2 separate regions of the Homo sapiens genome follow, and region 2 is linked to region 1. A link means that fine-mapping ties the variant in region 1 to the expression of a gene that starts in the linked region. Tissue or cell type: prefrontal cortex. Region 1 holds a variant in brackets; the other region holds the start of a gene. All regions are shown on one strand. Distances are from middle to middle.

The links. PIP is the estimated chance that this variant, and not a neighbour inherited with it, causes the effect.
Region 2: AGMO starts here. The variant in region 1 is fine-mapped to the expression of AGMO in prefrontal cortex (CommonMind, PIP 0.95).

The regions. Positions count from the first base shown.
Region 1 is chr7:15,371,721-15,379,910 of GRCh38, reverse strand. All of the region lies in intron 10 of AGMO (alkylglycerol monooxygenase), which reads left to right. Among named protein-coding and RNA genes, the nearest start is that of AGMO, 190 kb to the left of the region's middle. The variant C/A (reference allele first, on the strand shown) is at 5,128.
Region 2 is chr7:15,558,088-15,566,277 of GRCh38, reverse strand. AGMO (alkylglycerol monooxygenase) reads left to right here and starts at 4,263. Exons shown (of 13, transcript NM_001004320.2): 1 at 4,263-4,558; 2 at 6,007-6,137. The coding sequence starts at 4,433. It overlaps LOC124901591 (a long non-coding RNA gene), which reads right to left and starts at 7,421. Exons shown (of 3, transcript XR_007060217.1): 1 at 7,251-7,421; 2 at 6,965-7,097; 3 at 6,078-6,182.

The DNA.
Region 1 (8,190 bases):
GCTTTCTGTCTTTAGTTCTGTTAACGTAATGAATCACATTGACTGATTTGTGTATGTTGAACCAACCTTGCACCCAGGGATAAAGCCCATTTAATCATGGTGGATAAGCTTTTTGATGTGATGCTAGATTTGGTTTGCCAGTATTTTATTGAGAATTTTTGCATTACTGTCAGTCAAGGATATTGGCCTGAAGTTTTTGGAATAGTTTCAGTAGAAATGGTACCAGCTCTTCTTTGTACCTCTGGTAGAATTCAGCTGTGAATCTGTCTGGTGCTGGGCTTTTGTTGATTGGTAGGTTATTTGTTACTGCCTCAATTTTAGAGCTCACTATTGTTCTCTTTAGGGTTTTAATATCTTCCTGGTTCAGTCTTAGGAGGGTGTATGTATCCAGGAAATTCGTCTAGATTTTCTAGTGTATGTGCATGTAAGTGTTCATAATATTTTCTGATTGTTGTTTGTACTTCTGTGGGGTCATTGATAATAACCTCCTTGTTTTTGATACTGTTTATTTGAATCTTCTGTTTCTTCTTTATCAATCTAATTAACAGTTTTTCTACTTGATTAATGTTTTCCCCAAAACAGCTCCTGGATTTGTTGATCTTTCCAATGGTTTTTCATGTCTCAATCTCCTTTGCTTCAGCTGTGATTTTGGTTATTGTCTTGTGATAGCTTTGGGATTTCTTTGCTCTTGATTTCTCTAGTTATTTAGTCGTGATACTAGGTTGTGAACTTGAGATGTTTCTGACTTCTTGATGTGGACTTCTAGTGCTATAAATTTCTCTCTTAACACTGCCTTAGCTGTGTCCTAGAGATTCTGGTATGTTGTGTGTTGTGTCTTTGTTCTCATTAGTTTCAAAGAACTTCTTTGAAACTTTTGCCTTAATTTCATCATTTACCGAAAAGTGATTCAGGAGCAGGTTATTCAGTTTCCATGTAATTGTATGGTTTTGAGTGAATTTCTTAGTCTTAATTTCTAATTGTGCTGTGGTCTGAAAGAATGTGGGTTATGATTTCAGTTCTTTTGCATTTGCTGAGTAGTGTTTTACTTTCATTTTTGTGATTGATTTTAGATTATGTGTCATGTAGCGATGAGAAGAATGTAAATTCTGTTGGATTTTAATGTCTTTGTATGCTTTTAGACATCACTGAGATTAGAAAGGCACTATAGAATTTTGCCACCCAGAACTCTGGGTGGAGAGTTCTGACTGTATCTATCAGGTCCATTTGGTCTAGTGCTGAGTTCAGGTGCTGCATATCTTTGTTAATTCTCTGTCTGGATGATCTAATATTGTCAGTGGGGTAGTAAAGTCTCCCACTATTATTGTGTGGGAGTCTAAATCTCTTTGAAGATCTCTAAGAACTTGCTTAATAAATCTGGGTGCTCCTGTGTTGGGTGCATACATATTTAGGATAGTTAGGAATCCTTGTTGATTTGATCCCATAAAGGGACGGAGAAAACACTACCAAGCAATTGGAAAACAGAAGGATGGGATGCAATCCCAAGTTTCTGACAAAACAGACATTAAACCAACAAAAACCATTTTAATTTTAACATTATTTTAAAACTTTAATGATTGGTGTTGTCCATATATATTTATTTTGTGCGTGTGTTCAAAGTTAGTAACCAAATTATTCTTCATATAGGAACCCAAATTTTAAACAATAGATAAGTTTGTATGTGCTGTCTGTCCAAATATAATTTTTTAAAATAAAAAGCCACAGGGAAACATGAAATCGACTTGTATTACTGTAGCAGAAAACAATGAGTTAGATTCTTGTTTCCATTTTGTGAAGCAAATGCAGGAACTAGGATACTATGGGGCCAGAAGTTTTTTGAAAATGTAATGATTGGACATATAGTTACTGTTTGTTTTTCTTACCTGTGCTAGAGCTAATGATGAAACAAATTGCATAGTGTACCAGGTTTATTTGGCTTTAGCCCCCAAAATGACAAAATTTGAAACCAAGAATTTCTTTTTGGACCAAAGCTTTTATAACTGTGGCATGAACCACATTACGCTTGGCAGTGCACACCTAAACATCAAACCACCAAAATGCTTAGACTTCATATTTGTTTAAGTAAGGTCTCATAACCCCTCACTTAACTACTTTGTTTAATATATTAACTTAATATGTTCTCCCCAAGTAGAACTAAAATCTACATCATTAATAGAGCTTAAATAGTTGAATGAGACCAAAAGAAAAGCCAGGGTCATCTGTGTCTAAATATCCAACTGTTGATATACTAACCAATGTTGAGTACAGTTCGCATTGTTGATTTTTCTTAGTTGTATTAAATAAAATCTCTAAATAAATTATACTGATTCATAGAAACAAAAGATGGAGACTTACTCATTTTAAGCTATGTGAGCCTCCATGTTAAATTTGAAATAGTGGCCATTAACATTTGAATGCCTGGGCATGAGTGAGTGCTTCCTGGGTAAAAATGTAGCCAGACACTGTGTACATTAAAATATGTGACTTACAGCATGGTTTTCTCAAGATTTCTCTACTGTCATGAAAAAATATATGAGAAACTCATGTAGATATATTGACGAAGAGAAATATCAAGTGTTGAAACCCTTTACAAACTGAAAGTAGAGTTGGAGACAGCTTCATTCCTGACACAAATTAATTTTGAAAGTTGTATTTGCTTGTTTCCCACATGTGTTTTTCTTTGCTGAGAACATGCTGTGTGACTAGGAAGAAAGGTTGTTTATTTGCAAAATTCTATAGTGCCTTTCTAATCTCAGGGATGTCTAAAAGCATACAAAGACATTAAAATCCAACAGCAATATTTTTTTCCAGATTCACTGTAGCCAATAATCACACAGAAAAGTTGTGGCTGACTTGTAATTGGGGACCCTGCTGTGGTCCCACAGTCTTTTCTGTTTATGCATATATTAGAGAAGATAAATACTTACTTGTTTTATGTATGCAAGTTCTATATAAATAACTTTGGGAGTCAAGAGAGCAATTTGATGGCCACGACAAAGGTGTAAGAGACACATTCCTTTCTTACTGAAACTTGCAAAGCATATATTTAAATATATAGTGTTTAGTTTAGTGATATGACCCACGGACTTTTATGTTGATTTTGGTTTAGTAATCCTTGAAAAATCAATTCCTCAGCTGCCAGTGTCCACTTCCTGGGGTGATATCATGAGTACATGTTGGAAATAAAAATATGTATAATATGTATTGCACTAGCATGTTCTACAAACTAAAATTGAAAAGGCAATGCTTCTTTTAACTAATAAACACACAAAAAACAGTTTGAATATTCAATAAGGTCTTATAATAGGATATGTAATAAAGTTACTGCAGATACATTTGAACACAGATTACTTTGATGATATATTTCAAGTTACAGGGCATCTGAGAGTATCCAATATAAATTTGGAAACATTTTTATGGTTTTTAATTCCCCTGAATGCCATACTCTGTAAAACATTATGGGCACTACAATTTTGTAACTAATATTTTCATGTTGGCGTTTTTTAATAAAGCTGCTGAAAAAAACCTGTAAAAAAATCAATATATTTTGGTCGACTCTTACAGCAGAGAGTGCCACCTGCACAAATTAGATCTAGCTTAGGTTCTTCATGAAAGTTTTCAAGTCAATGTCCAGGGTATACTGTTTTTCTCTAGTCTATCCCCTTGGGATTTCATTTCCTTAAGATTTTCGGTGGTAACTAAGTTACGTAATGTGGGGGAAAAAAAAGGAATGTGGGCCAAAATGAGCATCAATTATAATACAAAGGCATGAAATGAATGTAATGGATTTGTAGTAACGGAAGACTATTAACAAAAGCTACCTTTCAAGTAAGCATAGACTACAGAAATGTAGAAAAGTGATCATTGTATTTTCCTAAATACATTATTTTTTGTCCACTACATTTAAATACATTGATAAACTGGGAAATTACACATTTAATAGTATATGCATCAAATAATAGAATGTTAACTTTGAAATTAAATATATCTTCATATCACTATAAGTGTTTTCTAATTTGGTGAGGATCAGGCAGCTTCTTTAAAAAGTTACATAACAAACACAATGATAACCTCCTCATAATTTAAATCATAACCTCACTTAGATTTGTTAAGTGTATGTAAAAATTAAGCAATTTAATTCTGTTTTGGAAACTCCCAAGTCTAAATGCGCAGTTCTTTGGAGTTACATTTCCTCATTAAAAGTATTCCACGTGAAGAGGCTGGGCACAGTGGCTTACGCCTGTAATCCAGCACTTTAGGAGGCCGAGGTGGGTGGATCACTTGAGGTCAGGAGTTTGAGACCTGTCTGGCCAAGGTGGAGAACCTCCGCCTCTGCTAAAAATACAAAAATTAGCTGGGTGCGGTGGCAGGTGTCTGTAATCCCAGCTACTCTGGAGGCTGAGGCAAGAGAATCACTTGAACCCAGGAGTTAGAGGTTGTGCAGAAGCCAAGATTGTGCTACTGCACTCCAGCCTAGGCAACAGAGCAAGACTCTGTCTCAAAAAAAAAAAAAAAAAAAAAAAAAAATCCTTTTAGAAAGAAAGTCTGATCTGTCTCTGAAACAGTCTTTTAACATCTTTTCTCTTCTGTATTTTGGAAAATAATGAAAAGGTATTTAGTTTGTAGATCCACTTGTTTCTTAGTAAGAAAATAAAAGTTTCCTATTAAAAGTGCAAGGAAATTTGATCTTGAGGCAAATACAGATTATTCAGAGTGGCTCCCACAAAATAGTTTTATGGAGCATTCAAAAAAGATAATATGTTAACAACAGACTCTTTTGGCAACTGTTGTAGGATCTTTCTTTTCTAGAGGTTTTCAGTCTTGGACCAATTACTACCCAATACTGAGGCACAACCCTTTGGTGTTCTCTACTTAGTGAATGTCCAGTGAATCATGAGATTTTCCAGTCTGTCTGGTAGGAGTATGCATTACACACATACTGGGCATTGTAACTCTGATCCTTTTTTGCCCTTGGATAATTTCTTCAGGGTATCACGCATGAGCTGACTTGCTAAAGACTTGACCGACACTCTGCAAATTTTTAGGGTTCTCTATGCATAACTCTTCCTTTTTTGGTACTCTATTTTCCAAATGCTAGCCTTCTTGGTTTCTCTCAAATCCTGGCTCTTT[C/A]TCCACAATTCAGGGAATCCACCAAGCTCCTCTGGGTCCCTCTGTATTGTAACCTAGAAACTCTCAAGGTGGGAAACTGGTGCAATATGGATCATGTCATTTGTATCCTATTTCCCTGAGATCGCTGTTCTTTTTTGCCTTGTGCCCTGTGATTTGAAAACAATCATTTCAGATATATTGCTATTGTTTGTTTTTCCAGGTAGGAGGGTGAAGTTCTCTATCTTATCAGGTACACATTCATATTTTAATGGAGTAGAACCATAGTGTCAAATATAATTGTTACATATCTAATATTTTGGTATTTATAAAATACAATGTAATCTTTGGCTTTTATTTCTTACAATTTTTTGTAGAAACTGATGAACTCCATGTCAATTCAATGTTTTGAACTATATGTTAATTATACTTTTTTAGCCAATATATTTTCACCTTTGATATATTTATTATGTTTGCTTCTTGCTTGAAATTCTAGCAAATGTTTACTGTAATTATATTCCTCTTAGTATGCTTTAGTGGTAGCCACCTAGGGAGTTCTGAAAAAGTAGGGAAAAGAATAAGATAGCCAATATTGACAATTATTTTAAAGAGCAAGAAATTCTTTCAAGACAGATTCTTGAGACTCACATATAATTATACATTGCAGTATGGTGTCACATTGGATTCTGCTCTTGTGTTTATGTTGTAACACTGAGAAGCATCTTCAAGCCTTCGGATTCAGCATAACAAATCCGCAAGCTCACAGTGTCTGGAAGATTGGGGCCCTCAGAGCTGCAGAGATATTAATAATGGCAGCAGGGATAAGTATGCCAAGAAAGCCAATCTGCTGCCTTCACAGCAGAGATTGTAGAGGTTTCAGTGTTAGGCAATATTAGCCTCATTTTACAGATGTCTGAGAAGATGAGCATTAATCAAAATAATAACTTTTGTAGACCTTGTCAGGCACCTTTTAGAGAAACTACTAAAAACGTACCAACTTGTTTTAATAAGAAAATCTAGAGATTTTCATTTCTAAAGCCTTAGAATAAAATTATGGAAAATATTATCAAATCATCTTTGACAATGCATAAAGTTTAAAAAAAGAATTTTTTCATATGGAAACATACTGTTATTTTAGGATGTAGTGACTGAGTTTGATACCTCCTTTGTGAGGTTTGTTTGGTGGAGAAATGTGAGAGGAGGTTGTATTGACCCCTAAGGTTTTCCCATGCAAGAGTAAGACAGTGATAGTCCTCTTCAAGAAGAAAAGGGCTTTCTTCTTTATAATATCTGTGGGCAAAAGAAGAATTCCCACACATTCATTGATTAAGTAACATGGCGTCAAACATGTAATTCTGCTGTTTTTGTGTTGTTAATGATACCTTTTCCTAAGTATTTTTTTCCCATCTATTTAAAGAAAGTTGGAGTAGATAGGGTTCTGCAGGCGTAATTGGGGCTGCAAATGTAAACCATCATCCTTGCACTGGGAAACCTATGAAAACGAGCTACCAAATAATTTTTTTTTTTTTTGAGACAGAATATCACTCTGTTGTCCAGGCTGGAGTGCTGTGGTGCCATCTCAGCTCACTGAAACCACCTCCTCCCAGTTTCAATCAGTTCTTGTGCCTTAACCTCCCAAGTAGCTGGAATTAAAGGCAAGTACCGCCACCATGCCCAGATAATTTTTGTATTATTTTTGTGTTTTTAGTAGAGATGGGGTTTTGCCATGTTGGCCAGGCTGGTCTCGAACTCCTGGCCTCAAGTGAATTGCCGACCTCAGCTTCCCAAAGTGCTGGGATTATAGGCATGAGCCACCACACAGTAGTGAAACTTGACAGATAATTTTTAAAAAGGAAAAATAATTTATTGCCTCATAAAGCTATTTATGGTTATGATCTTTCCCAAATGCTTTCTGTGATTAAGAACCGATCATACGTCCAAATTAAAATGGAACTAATTTAGAATAATTTCAATTTAGCACTTTAGGACAGAGATACTTTATATGAAAGATAAACCAGCAGTATATAATTTGAAATGGGAGTAAATTAAATGAAAAAATAAAATCCTCCCTGTTATAAAAAACTAATAAGCTACGTGTGATTTCACATATTGTTTAAAACACAGGAGACTAAATATTTATAGTCTTCAAAACCTATAAATTCTATTTTTTTTTCTTTTGCTCTAGTGTAGTTGGCCAGTGGTCTTACGGGCAAATACTAAGGTGGTATGAATTCAAGGGCAGGGATTTTGTTGTTCTTGGTTACTCAAACTCATATTTACCATAGTGCCCAGCACATATTCAATATATATTCATGGAATGAATTTGTAGAATTTATTTATTTATTTATTTTTGAGACAGAGTCTCGCTGTGACGCACAGGCTGGAGTGCAATGGCATGATCTTGCCTCACTGCAACCTCTGCTTCCCAGGTTCAAACAGTAGTTTACTCCTGCCTCAGCTGCCCAAGTAGCTGGGACTACAGGTGTGTGCCACCATGCCTGGCTAATTTTTGTATTTTTAGTAGAGACGGGATTTCACCGTGTTGGCCAGACTGGTCCTGAACTCCTGACCTCAAGTGATCCGCTCACCTCAGCGTCGTAAAGTGCTGGGATTACACGCATGAGCCACCACACCCAGCCGCATGTTAGACTTTAGAGACGTTCAACTGATTATCTCCCTTAGTAGTCTATCAAAGGATACTATATAGAAAAACTTAAGTTCCATAGGAAAATGAACCCTAAATTAAGCATATGTGTTCTATGTTGAATTCCCTCTTCAATATTCTCAGTTTCTTTTAAACTCATTTTTGGGATATTCTGTTTTTTAAGGAATTAAAGGGATAAATATTAAGGTACTTAATATTTAAATATTTAATATTTAGAAACACTTAATAATTTAATATTAAACTATTGATTGAATAATTTAGTTGAATTTATTTTAAAGTTTGAGGAATATAAAATATTGGTATTAGATGAGGTGTGGTGGCTCATGCCTATAAATCCCAGTACATTGGGAGGCTGAGGCCAGACTTGAGTCCAGGAGTTTGAGACCAGCCTGGACAATGTGGTGAAAACCCATCTCTACAAA
Region 2 (8,190 bases), 190 kb before region 1:
TGAATTTAATGTAGTTCCAATTAAAATGCCAACAGGATGCTTTGAAGTTTAGTCTAAACATTTACACAAGCAAATGTGTAAAAACAGCTTCATATTTTTGAGTAATAAAATTCAAGCATGATAAATTGTTCTACAAGTTACCAGAATTTATTATGACAGTACAATAATGAAGACAACATGGTACTAGCATAAGAGTAGATAAAAACATCCATAGAGCTGAATGAAGAGCCTGGAAATAGTACAGGTACATAGAATAGTGGGGAAAGTATTGACTGACTAATGGTGTGGCAAGAACTGTGATCCATAAAGGCAAGGTAAAAAGTCAAATAATTACTACATACCATATGGAAAACTAAATTCCAGATAATTGAAACAACAGAAATCTTTTAAATGCTCCAAAAAAAAAAAATCAGAAGATTATTCTTACGGAATTCTGGCAAGGGAAATGTTCATAAGCAAGATCCAAAAGCAGAGGTAACAAAGGATAACAGCACACACAAAGTTACAATTGCAGTATGACAACATATAGATAACTAGTGAATATGAAATGAGAAAATACTTGTCACATATATCAGAATATATATACTGTACATAGAATTATATATTTATAATACAAATGGCCTATAAACCAATAATGACAATGAAATAAAATAATGTGCAGCTCATATTAAAAAATAAATTTCAGATTAAGAAGCAAAAAAACATTAATAAATGTACTGAAAGATGTTCAGTGTCATTAGTGAGATGCAAATTAAAACAAGATACCATTTTTTCATTAACTAATTGGCTAAAAATTATGAAAGATTAATAATAGCCAGTGTTAGCAAGAGTGTGGAGGGGAAGGCAATCTGAAAGGGGAATTCGGCAGTAATTATCAAAGGGTAAATTTTACATCATCTTCATAGCATAATTCCGCTGCTAGGAATCTATGTAACAAAAAATGTGCAAAATGTATAAATATTTATACCATGATGTTTATTGTTGCATTAAATTTATTAGTTAAAAATGGAAGACTGCGTTTACACACACAACAATAGAGGAGTAATTAAATAAGTTATGATGGTGTGCTGGTTCTTGGTTGACTTTTTCCATAGATTGATTCTTCCCTCCCTTTCTCCTTCAGCACTGTGTGTAGTAAGAGGTTACCTTCAGCAGGCTTCTTTTTCTAGCTTTTTCTGTCAACTGGCTTTTGACTCATTTAGCTTGTATTAGTCTATTCTCACACTGCTGTAAAGAACAATCTGAGATTGAGTAATCTGTAAAGAAAAGAGTTTTAGTTGCCTCATAGTTCTGCAGGCTGTACAGGAATAATTGCTAGGGAGGCCTCAAGTAACTTTCAATCACTGCAGAAGGGGAAACAGGTGTGCCTTACATGACCAGAGCAGGAGGACGAGACAGAAGAGGGAGGTGCTACACACTTTTAAACAACCAATCTCTTGAGAACTCACTCACTATCAGGAGAACAGCAAGAGGGCAATCTACCCCCATGATCCAATCATCTCCCACGAGGCCCCTCCTCCAACACTGGGGATTTCAATTTGACATGAGATTTGGGCCAGGACGCAAATCCAACCATGTCATAGCCTAATGGGAAGTACTGTTGGGAGACTGGTGGGCAGGAAGAAGGGAGAAGCCATAGTACTTCCCTTTCTTCCCTCTCTGCCATGGGTATTATTTCTGGCTTTGATTGGCTTTGCTCCATGGGAAATACTCTTGCTAGACAAGCCAATGGTGGTTCTAACTTTTCCTAGATGACCATAGCCCCTGGGCCCTACTAATACAACCTTCTCCATTTGTCCCTACAATTTAACAATGGTAGTGGCTTCCTATTGGTACTAATCTCTAGATTACCTCTTTGTTCCTGCTTGGTTTTTTACTTCTCCCATCATCTATGTAACAACTTTTTTCTTGTATAAAATTGCTTCTGCTTTAAAAAGTTAGAAATAATTTTGTTTTGCTCATTGAAATGCACACACACACTTTTGCAGCCAGTAAAAACAACGAAGAAAAGGCTGTACCTGTATAATCATATACTAAAAAAGAAATGTTCCTGGTAAGTTATTGACTCCAAGAAGGAACTTGCTGTATCTTATGTTTGATAAGGTCCATTGCAAAATCGAACCATTATGTGTATATAGAAACGTATTTGTATAGTAATAATGATAATAACTATCCCTTTTAGGAAAAAACAGATATGGCAAAAAAAAAAAAAAAAAAAAACCCCACCAAGAGGATATGTTATCCCTATGAAGTGAAGTGCAAGGTGTGCATATATTGAGAAGAAAGGATGCTGCCACTTTTGACTTTATATACAGCTATATTGTTTGTATTTTTTTCTCTTGTATCACATTGTTAATTTCCAAAATTGTTTTGAAAGCAGGTAATAAAACAGTATGCCTACTATGATCATTTTTATTAAATTTTTTTTTGTTTTTGTGACAGAGTCTTGCTCTGTCCCCCAGCCTGGAGTGCAATGGCAAAATCTCCACTCTCTGCAACCTCCACCTCTTGGGTTCAAGCAATTCTCCTGCCTCAGCCTCCCGAATAGCTGGGACTACAGGTGCCCATCACCACACCCAGCTAATTTTTGTATTTTTAGTAGACACGGGGTTTTGCCATGTTGGCCAGGCTGATCTCAAACACCTGACCTCAGGTGATCAGCCCGTCTCGGCCTCCCAAAGTACTGGCTGGGATTACAGGTGTGAGCCACCACGCCCAGACACCTTTATTAAAAATTAATGTCCATATGTACTTATTGGTAATGGGAATGGTCTGAAAGGACAGTCAATTCTGCTATAACATGTGCTTTGAGATTAAATTTGTTCCAATGTGATTAATATACCAGAAAATAATTTGAGCATACTGCCTATGCTCATGTGTGATTTTATTTTCAGTGAAAAAGAGTAGTTGAACTTTAAAAAACTGAACTGAAAAACAGAAAGGCTTAGGATGCACAAAATACACCCACCACTTATAGTAACACCCTCACTTCACCTGTGTGTTGTGAGCCTTGACACCCATATGTCATATTGCAACTTTCTGTCTGATTTCAGATAACCCACATTTCAACAAGCTAAAGTAACTTGCAGTTTGCAAATCTTCCAATGCCTAATTTCCAAAACAAGTTTCAGGTCTTTTTCAAGGTAAAGCATCATATTTATTTTAGTATTTATGTATATCTTAACCATGTAACGTGTGAAAGTGTGCTACCATTTTTATTAGGCTCTCATCCTTTTTTTCTTGTTCCTTGTGGGTCATTATGAAGTTTTTGAGTATTTTACCCTAATCACATTTTTTCTCACAAGTCCCGTGGTTTTTATTGCACAATTTTGTACAGTATAGTGATTTTTAGGAATGGATATATCACATTATAGCAAAACTGACCATACATGTACCAAAATGTTAATAGCGTTTTGGGCAGCTTATTATTGCTTATCTATAGTTTCTATATTTTTCTAAAACAATCGTGCATTGATACTTTAATTAGATCTATGTAAACATCTTTAAATGATGAAATGGCAGCTAAAGGATGATTACAGCTGTTTTGGGTAAAGAGCTGAGGCTATTCTGGCAAGCTCCACATATTCACTGGTAATGTAATAAATTAAGTGCCTTCTAATCTACTTAAAAGGTACAATCACTTAAGCTCTTTCTGTAAAACAGAAACAGGTCTCACAGCAACATCTTGGCACCTTCTTTAATCAGAAAGTTCCCATAAGTACTAAGAAGAATAGAGAAGATGTGACTAGCCAATTTTCCATTAAATAATGTAGATTATGTAATAAGCCAAATGCCCCTAAACTGGTTGCAAACATTCAGAAGTGGTAATAACATGATTCAGATACAGAAATATAGATAGGCAATAAGGAGCCAGATATTCAGTGCTTACTGACTTTCAAGCTATTATTAAGTAGCTCGCCTATACACAGTCTCTGTAGGAAATAAAGAAACTACAAGCTTGAACACATTGTAAATTTCTAAATGAGGAGAAAAAAAGGTTTTTCTATGTGACTTGATGCTTGAATTTCTATCCAGTTTTTCAGAGTGAACATATACCTGCGTTATCACTTTTTTCTTTCCGAGACACTATTATGATGTTTTTTCTCTTCTTTTTTAAGTAGTAACTTGCTCCACCTACAGTCAAACTGCACTGTATGACTTTGATTTGGGTATGAGTCCTCTTTTCCCTCCCCCACATGCCCTGTTTCTGGCCCAGCGCCCACTGAACTCTGTACTTGTTCTTGATCCTTGTATTTTCCTGTCTCTCTACACAGAATCGGCTGTTGAGTGTGCTCTCAGTGGAGCTTTGGTTTTAGCTGTTCTCTGACAAAGAGCTTGTTCTGAGCTGCACATCTCGTCCTCTTTGTTCAGCCTCAGGCTTCAAGCATTGAATCCTAAATATTCTCCAGCTGGGAATCAGACAAGGGCAGAAATGAAGAACCCAGAAGCCCAGCAGGATGTTTCAGTTTCCCAGGGATTTCGCATGTTGTTTTACACGATGAAACCCAGTGAAACTTCATTCCAAACATTAGAAGAGGTGCCTGATTATGTAAAAAAGGTGAGACTTTATTGGAAGAGGCTACTCTTATTCTTGCTGCTTTCTTAATAAATGGTAAGGTCAATCTCCTTAGGGTTTTGTTCACTTTCATTATTCAAATGATTACATTCTAATAATAATAATTCAGTTTCTTAAAGGCGTGAAGCAAAAGTAGAATTTCCACTTGAATTTTCTTACAATCCATAGCCATCTTCACCTGTAAATTCCCTCTTTTATATGTCACTCCAGAATATGACAAAAACAAAAGTTTAAAGTTTTCCTGGACTCCATGGCATTGTAAATGTAGCTATTGGAAGCTCAATGACAAATAGTTACACCACATCAGTAAACTTTGTAACAATTTCATTTTTAAATCTTTCACTTGTCCACCCCTTCCAGGGAAACTATTTCCTCTTTCATTTGGTAGAGTAGTTCAGCAGAATGAAGGATATGCAGCTTGACCAGGTCCAGCTCTGACTTCCTAAGTTTGAATTTGACCCAAGTTTTCTTTGAAACTCTGAAGTGCTCAGAGGCACATTTCACTTCTGGTTCCTGGCTATGATTGGAAGTGGAAATATCCAGAATTAGAACTTGAATACTGAAGTTCCCCACCCTATCAAAGTTATTCCTACAACACTCACTAGTTCATGGCAGAAATAGAAAAAAAATGACATCATAGAATATGTTATTGAGAGTTCAGTTTAGAAAGCTTCAAAACTCATGATTAGCTTCCAAATGAGTAAAATCCGTATCTTTTTCAAGATTAGATATTACACTTTCTTTCTGAGTTTTTAAGTTAAAAAAAGTGGCACTGATATCTTCATAAATTATTATTGTTTATACTGCAATATCAAACCAAATTCAATGCTCCATCACCAATAGTGGAGCTTTCAAAACATCTCTTATTATGTGAAACAAAAATCAAAACCAAATGAATAAAATCTGAATCATGTTTTAAGCAAACATGTAAAATTACCATATTCTCTAAAATTCTAAGCAGAAAATTGTCTCTACTCTTTGAATTTCATCATTAGAAATAGTTCTGGTAAGTCTAATATGAAAAATTAGAATTATGTGCATCTTTAAGGAAAGCCTCTTGAAGTGGGTCTAAATTATACATGTAGAGACAATAGACCTCTAATTATCTACCTTATTCTAAATGTATTTTTTAAACTAATTTGGAAGATGTTCCTCTTAATCTTATAATATTATAATTATCGTGGTTATATCTATGATTACATTTCATATTCAAATTGGATGATAGAATTTGAGCACATGTTTAGTGTATGTCTAAAATAATTAGACTTCTTTACCACTGTGTAGGAAGTAATCCTCTAAAATGAGTGTCTACCATCTCCTGCAGGGCTTCCCAAATCTGGGCCTTTCAATTCTGAAATGACTAATCAGGAAATGTAAAATAATTTCATATGGAACATAATAGCATCTCTTTTCTGCAACTTCCTTTCCAGGCAACTCCATTTTTCATTTCTTTGATGCTGCTTGAACTTGTTGTCAGCTGGATTCTCAAAGGAAAGCCACCAGGTCGCCTGGATGATGCTTTAACGTCAATCTCAGCTGGTGTTCTGTCTCGACTTCCAAGGTGAGTTAGATGGTCAACAACGCTGAGCATAAAAACTGAAATTGCCTAAGTATGAGGGGCAAAGGAACCCAATGCATGGGAGAATTAGTTTATTTACACAAATTTTCCCAAAAAATTCAGTTCATGTCATTATTTAAAATTTTGATATTTTGTTCTTCATTGATTTTTTGCACTTATTTAAAAAATCACCGCAAACATTATTTATCTTGACTCTGTTGATATCCCTTTGAAATGAGTGCTTCATTTGCCTTATTGAGGTTCCAACTCTGAGTTATGGTCTGGTTCTCTATTAAAATTGTGTTTTGTCTCTTCCAGCTTCAGAAAGAATAGCTGTCTCGGGTGTAGCCATTCCCTAGAGCAGGTCACACAAATCTCTGAATAACTACAATAGTTTGCTAATTGGTGTCTGGCTCTAGTACAACCCCGTTTGCAGCCAAGCATTTCCATAATATGAATCCAGTGGAAACCCTTCACTGGCTCTCTATTGCCTCAAGTGTAAGGTAAAAATCCCTGTCTTGAACTATAGAGAACATTGTTTCTCTGGCTTTGCTTTTGGATCGTCCACTCTCCTGTCTATTTGTCATGTTTATCCTGTCATGCTTTACTACTTGCCATTGTCCACATGCCACAGGCACTTCCCTCTGCCTGGAAAGCCATCCAGGCCAATTCAGATTCATTCATTAGGTCTAAGCATAGACATCACACTCTTCAGCAAGCTTTATCTGTTTTCCAACCTTATGTTAGGCATTCCTGCATTCCTACACTACAGTCCCATGGAATTGTGTGCTTATCCCAGATCTAGAATTATCACATGACATGATGCTTACCTGTTTTTCTCTCAGCCCTTCCTGCTAGCTTGCACACAACTTGAGAGCAAGAGGTGTATGTTCTTAATAGTTTTAGCTCCTGTGCCTGGAATGATGTCTGTTGCATGTAGTTTCCCCAAAAGCAGTAATATTCCTGTAACATTATGTTGATGATAAAATTAGATGATATTGGGACTCAATAATAGTAAGATATAAATGACCTACTATTTTTTAGAAAGAGTACATTATAATGTGTGAAGAGGAAAGACCAATAAATGGAAGTCATCTTCAACACGTGAGGGCTTACCAAAGAGGCAGAGGGTGAGGAAAGATTCCCTTAGAAGTCTGTGCTTTGAGCTGCTGATGAATGTTCTCATTCCAGCTTCCCACCCATTTCTTCTTGTCCTGTTTTAAGAGCTTTACTTCTGACTGGTGCTCATTGCTTTGGAATGTTTCTATTAACCGCCCAGTGGGAAGCTAAGGTGGATTTTTAAAAAATAACATTAAAACTTTAAATATCTAAAAAAGGTGGAATAATTTCATATATTACATAAAATAGTTTAAATAAAAGTAAACTTAAAAGTAAAATTTTTTCAATAAGTGTTTGAGAAAAGTGCATTATTAGGTATATAGTAGAAGTAATATTAATAATATTTACTCTGAAAAACTACTTGTAATTGTTGCATTTTGCAGTTGAAATCAGAAGAAGATAATGTCTCCAGAAATTTGCAGCTAATTCCCAGATTATCATGAATAAGAATTTACAATTATAGATAATTTCCTTTATTATAATACTTGTCCCCTTTAAGCAGAAATGAACAAGAAAAACATTCAACATGCCCAAGGGTATATAGATTTAGATGTAGATTTAGTTATTTAAAAATACCCAGTTGGTTAATTTAGCTCATTCTCAGAAAGTTAAGTGTATAGGTTATGGAAATCAGATTATTGATAAACTATAAACGTCACCCAATAACTGAAAATTGCCCTGTATATACGATTATGGGTCATATATTTTACTGAATTGGAATGCATTTGTTAAGCATTTTGACAATGAATTTGACAGCAAATTGAATGAACTCTTCAGAATTTTTTTTTTTACCTTTTAAAGTTTGATTTTGTTCCAAATGAAATTAGATTGTTCTCTTATCATAACATTGTAAGTACCAGAAATACAAACTGTATCCTCAATACAATATTTTTGCTTAGCAGTGTTATTTTAAAAAGGTACAGAGTTATAACAGGAA